2 separate regions of the Homo sapiens genome follow, and region 1 is linked to region 2. A link means that fine-mapping ties the variant in region 2 to the expression of a gene that starts in the linked region. Tissue or cell type: whole blood. Region 2 holds a variant in brackets; the other region holds the start of a gene. All regions are shown on one strand. Distances are between the middles of the regions.

What was found. PIP is the estimated chance that this variant, and not a neighbour inherited with it, causes the effect.
Region 1: ATPSCKMT starts here. The variant in region 2 is fine-mapped to the expression of ATPSCKMT in whole blood (INTERVAL, PIP above 0.99).

The regions. Positions count from the first base shown.
Region 1 is chr5:10,248,366-10,251,281 of GRCh38, reverse strand. ATPSCKMT (ATP synthase c subunit lysine N-methyltransferase) reads left to right here and starts at 1,394. Exons shown (of 5, transcript NM_199133.4): 1 at 1,394-1,424. The coding sequence starts at 1,409. It overlaps CCT5 (chaperonin containing TCP1 subunit 5), which reads right to left and starts at 1,002. Exons shown (of 11, transcript NM_012073.5): 1 at 837-1,002. The coding sequence starts at 941. RefSeq lists silencers at 1-74, 405-544, 615-684, 1,435-1,494, 1,505-1,624.
Region 2 is chr5:10,225,953-10,228,868 of GRCh38, reverse strand. ATPSCKMT (ATP synthase c subunit lysine N-methyltransferase) reads left to right here. Exons shown (of 5, transcript NM_199133.4): 5 at 1,222-2,916. The coding sequence ends at 1,428. Among named protein-coding and RNA genes, the nearest start is that of ATPSCKMT, 22 kb to the left of the region's middle. The variant C/T (reference allele first, on the strand shown) is at 1,270.

The DNA.
Region 1 (2,916 bases), 22 kb before region 2:
CCCTCAATGGCTCCCCTTCTTCCCCAAAGATAACGTCGTATTTTCCATGTTGGGCATTCAATAGCTTCCACCTTCGGGAACTATTGTAAGTTAAAGAAGTCAGTGCTCCATTAAAACCGGATGGCTCTTCCATTCTACAACGTGCCATGCGCATTCTTGCCCAAGCCTTTACTTCTACCGTTTCCTCTCCCTAGAATGCTACCTCTCACCCCGATCTAAAGCTGTCCTCCAGCACCACGCTTATGTGCACCCTCTCCGTAGCTGTCCTTCTCACTGCACACCACCTTGTATTACGGTTATGTGCGTCCGTTTTTCACTCTTCGCTATTTTTCCTCAAGGGTGGGCAAAAAAGCACTCAGAAATGAAATACCCTGTTAAGTGACCACACCTTTACGAGTGACAAAGAAAACGGAAGGGCCGTTGCGGGTGGACCAGCGAAAGGTTAAGCAGCAGCGCCTTAACCGACAGGTGACAGAGCATCTCCCCGGCGCCCTCCCACTGGAGCGCAGTCCCACGCGGCCGTCAGGCTGGAGGAGCCGGGCGGGGAGGCGGTCCCGCTTTGCTCCCGCGGGCGACCGGACTGAGCGGCCCCACCCAGCTCCGAAGGGCGCTGGCGGCCCAGCCTGGCTGGCCCCCACATTCCGAGCCCAGGATTAGGCGCCGGCGTCTCCCGAGCTCAGTAAGCGGGCTGAGCGGCCGGAGACCGCAGGGAGACGGAGATTCTCGACCTTTCCGGGGAGCACATGGCAGAGCCGCTCCTCAACTCGCGCAGGCGCAGAGCCACGGCCTCGGCCACCTCCCCTTAGCCCACCGCGAGCAGGTCCCTGTGCCATTACCTTGAGGGCCTCAAGTCCCATAAGACGGGACTTGCGGTCCTGATCCTTGATGATGAGGAAAGGGCGCCCATATTCATCGAAGGCGAGGGTCCCCATGGACGCCATGGTGCAACAACCGGAATTACTTCCCCCCAACCGGCGGAGACCGCTACGGAAGCGAGAATGCACTTCCCTTTCTCGGGAGGGCCCAAAAGCTTGCGCACGCGCAGCACAAGACGCGCGGGACTTATGTTTCTACTGAGACTAATTTCACGCCAGACAGTATCTTCTGGAATCGGCGGCCTTCGGGAACTTCTATTATCCAGGAAGCCGGGGAGGGGGAGGTTTGAAGACACTTAGTGGAAATCTTAGGACACACAAGTCAAGAGCAGATTGAATTTGTCATTTTTTAAAACGTTACCACTGATAGTTTCTCGATAGTGGGTCCCAAGGAGGAATTCATTGACTTAAAGCACTATTTCTTTATTTCTTCGCACTCCGGCTCCGAGAAGATGGTAGGACCCATTTCCGGTTTTTTTTTTTTTTTTTTTTTTTTTTTTTTTTTTTTTAAAAACGCTGTTGGAAATCTCGCGATGGAGGGAGGAGGAGGTGAGGCTGGAGCGGCTTGGCGGGTTCCTGGGGGCATGAGAAGGGGTGCGGGCGGGCCGGGGGCTCGCGGTCAGCTGAGGTCTCCACTGTCGAGGCGGTGACCGGGTGCGGGCGGCTGCTCTGGCCTCCAGCCTGGCCTTCGGTGACCAGAGCTCCTGGTCGCCGCGCGGTGCCCGCGCCGGTTCTGGCGATCCTTGTCGGCGGGCGCGTTTCCCCAGAGACTGTTCTAGGCTACTTAGTGCAAGTGACTCAGCCTTTGGCACGATCTTAAGGAATAGGGATAGTGGAGGCACACTGATGGATTGGAATCGCAGTTCTGCCGCTCTTCCTAGCTGTGGCTTTGAGGAAATCCCTTAACTTCTTTGTCCCTCGGGTTCCCTGTCTGCAAAGTGACGGTGGTAACAGTAGTGCCTACTCACAGGGCTGCTGTGAGATTCAAGGAGAACGGTGCCTGGCAAGCTGAACACAGTGTTGGTAAATAAATTAACATTTTGCACAAATGGTTCAGTAACTTGCCACTGGTATACAGCTAGTAAGAAACAGTTACACAGCCTGATGCAATGGGTCCCACACTCTTTTTTTTTTTTTTTTTTTTTGAGACAAGACTGTAGCCCGGGCTGGAGTGCAGTGGCGCGGTCTCGGCTCACTGCAGCCTCCGCCTCCCGGGTTCCAGTGATTCTCGTGCCTCAGCCTCCCAGGCAGCTGGGACTACAGGCACAGAACCACCACGCTCGCTAATTTTTGTATTTTTAGTAGAGACGGTGTTAACGCCGTAGTGGCCAGGCTGGTCTCGAACGGCTGACCTCAAGTGATGTACCCGTCTAGGTCTCCCCAAGTGTTGGGCCTGAGCCACCGCGGTGCCCGGCAGGTCTCACTCTTAAGCCCTGTATTATGCTGCCTCAGAAAGATCTTGGCAACCGCAGCTGTCCTCTAAATCTCTTATGCTGCCTTCCTCCCCGCCCTCCAAGATCATGACTTAATATTTGATAGGTTTAGATTTATTTGTTGAGGGTTTCCATCCTTGCTTCTCCCCTACTGCCATGGGCAGGGACTTAACTAATAAAGTTGTATTATTCCCAGACTTTATTAGGCACTCAATAAGTGCTGAAATGAATACATGCACTATAACATTTGACCCTGTCCTGAAACTCAAGAACAGACTTGGCGACTGTGTTCCCATCTACTCTGGGGCTGAGGCAGGAGGATGGGTGGAGCCCAGGAGTTCAGTTTACAGTGCGCTATAATCGCGCCACTGCACTCCATCCTGGGCGACAGAGCGAGATTCTGTCTCTAAAAACAGGGAGGACTGACTGTCATGGGATGGTTGGTGATCTGTTAACTCTTCATGCTTGGCATACTTACGCGCTAGACCTTGAAGTGTTCTTCAAGGACATTTTAGATTTTGGAGTCAGGTCTTATTTCACGTTAGCTTTGCCAATTCAGTGTTTCCTCATTAAAAATGGTGACTTCTGCAATTCATTTGGCTCCTTCG
Region 2 (2,916 bases):
GGCTTGAGCTCATGAGTTCAGGACCAGCCCGGGCAACATGGTAAAACCCCATCTCTACAAAATTAGGAGGTTGAGGTGGGAGGATGATTTGAGTCTAGGAGGCGGAGGTTGCATTGAGCCAAGATCACACCAATGCAGTCCAGCCTGGGCGATAAATCTTGTCTCAAAAAAAAAAAAATTATTTGAACCTGGGTATAGGTATACAGGAGTTCTTTGTTCTGTTATTGCAACTTTTCTGGAAGTTTGAAATTATCCCAAAATAGCAAGTTAAAAGAAGAAAGTAGAAAAAAATTATTTTTAGGATGTGAAGGTGGTGAAGGTGGTAATATATTTTTAGGATCTGCAGATAAGTTTTTAAGTAGTTGTTAATTTGCTGATGTAATTAAAATATCAATACTTCTAGCAAATAATAAAAACTCTTTATTGGTAGATTGATAATAAAATGGTACAACGGTGGTATAAGTTAGGCTATCAAGAAATTCATTATCAGTATATTATGGATACATTTTTAAAAATTATGAAATATTTCATGATATTTCCAGTTGGTAGAATTGTGCATATTTTTTCATAGTCTAACTATACCACATTTCATTGACTGTAGATCTTGATTTTAGGATGCACCATTGCTATTGAGAAACAAAAAAATTGCTAATTATAATTCTAAGACAATTAGTGTTGTGTGATGTGTCCTGATTTCAGAGATGTTAAAAATGTGCAAAAATGTGGCTGGGCGCAGTGGCTCACGCCTGTCATCCCAGCACTTTGGGAGGCCGAGGTGGGCAGATTGCTTGAGCCCAGGAGTTTGAGACCAGCCTGGGCAACATAACAAGACCCCTCTCTCTTAAAAAATGGTGGAAAAATAATGTCTTAAATATATGAGACTAGGTATATTGAAGTGTTGAAGTGCGTTATTTAAAACTGCTTCTTATTAAAATTACTGCCACATCCTGATTTTATTTAGAAAACTATAAATCTATGATAGACATCTGCTAAAAATGGCATATTTTATAATTAATACTAGAAGGTGTTCTTACAACTGCTGTCAGTGTATCTTCTGTATTTCAATGGATTGTTTGTTTATGTGTTTGTGTCCCAGAGTGCTCTTTTTAACAAGTAGTAATTTTTGCTCAGGTATTTTCAGGGACTCTTAAAAACAGGAAATTTTGGGATCATTTCCTCTGACTCACTGCTCACTAAAATAATAGCTGTTACTCTCCACAGATGCTGCAGTTGGAGAAGAAACTTGAACGTGAACTTGAGGATGATGCA[C/T]GAGTTATTGCTTGCCGGTTCCCTTTCCCACATTGGACTCCAGACCACGTCACGGGGGAGGGGATAGACACAGTGTGGGCATATGATGCAAGCACTTTTAGAGGCCGTGAAAAGAGGCCCTGTACATCGATGCATTTCCAGCTGCCCATTCAAGCATAAACTTGACTGGGAGTGTTTTTCTGAAATATTGTAGTCTTCCCTGATCTTGTAGAGACTTACAGCTGTGTCCTTAGCAAAGGAGCATAATTGTCTTTGGTTTGGAATGAGAAATTACTATTACTTTCCTTAACTGTTGGAGAAAACAAACGAAGAAAAACAGGTAGATTTAAAATCTGCTTTTGATGCTATTTTCTTAAAAATTGTACTTACTGCCTTTCCATGCACCTGGATGCATGAAAAGATGAATAAGTGATGGTCATGGTTATGGGTAGGAAAATAAGATGCCAATAGCTCTTCACATTATAAACAATATGGCTTAATGCCTCGATAAGGAGAAATGATTTTTAAAGACAGTATATATTACCAACTGTTTGTAGTATCCTATAACTTTGTTCATACTTAAGTTGTATCTCTTTCCTTTTTGTACTTCATGGCAAAATTAATTTTCTAAAGGATTCAGAGAGGCGTTTATATTTTATAACATTTATTAGAAATAATTTGTTCCACCACTAGATTACTGTATTTTATGGAATCTAAGCTGTATATGTGTACATTTGTATACATGTATGTGTAAATGTAAGCCTGACGTGGGTTCAGATTCCAGTTTTGTCATCAGCAAGAGGCCTCGGACCCATGACTTACTGCCTCTGAGCCTTGGCTTTCTGTGTATCTCTGCCACTGGGATAATGGTACACATAACAGTGGAGTGGGGACCAATTTCTAAAACTCATGGCACCTAGTCTTTGGTCCATAAATGGTGTTTGTTATTTTAGACACTGAGAAAAATCTTATTCACAGAAGTTGCAGATTATTTCTGCTAGTCACTTTTTTATTTCTTGAGAGCTGCCACTCATTTAATATTTCTCATTTATGAGAAGAGACTTGACTGATTTAGATAAAAGACGAATTAAGGAAAACCTTTGAACGTGAGTAGACAAGCTTCATATATCTGTAAAGTGAATATTGAATGGTAGCTTGAGTCATTCGTACTTATCACAGAAAAGAATTGAACTCCCAGTCATACACCTGTAACTGAAATACCAAACTGTCTTAATGGAGATGTAATGAAGTAAGATGGTCACATCTTTAACTAAACTTATAAAAATTGGTCAGTTTGATCATTTTCATTTAAATGAGAAACATCTGGGGACACATTCATTCATTCAACAAATATGTATTCAGTATCTACTGTAGAAGAAGCTCTGAGATTCTGCGGTAAATAGACATGCAAAGCCCCTGGCCTCATGGAATTCCTATTCTGGAAAGGAGAGACAAACAAATAAGCAAGGGAATCTTAGTGTGTGTGGAGTTCTCTGAAGTAAACAGTGTGATGGTGTAGAGAGCACCTGTGTGAGTCTGAGATGAGGGGATGTGATGTTGTGGACTTCAGCCAGGTTTTTGGCAGCTAGTGTCTGTCCCTTTTTCAGTAGCTCCAGTCTTCTTATGAAGAATGAGTTCTTTCTGTGGTGTGTGACTTTAGTGGGAGGG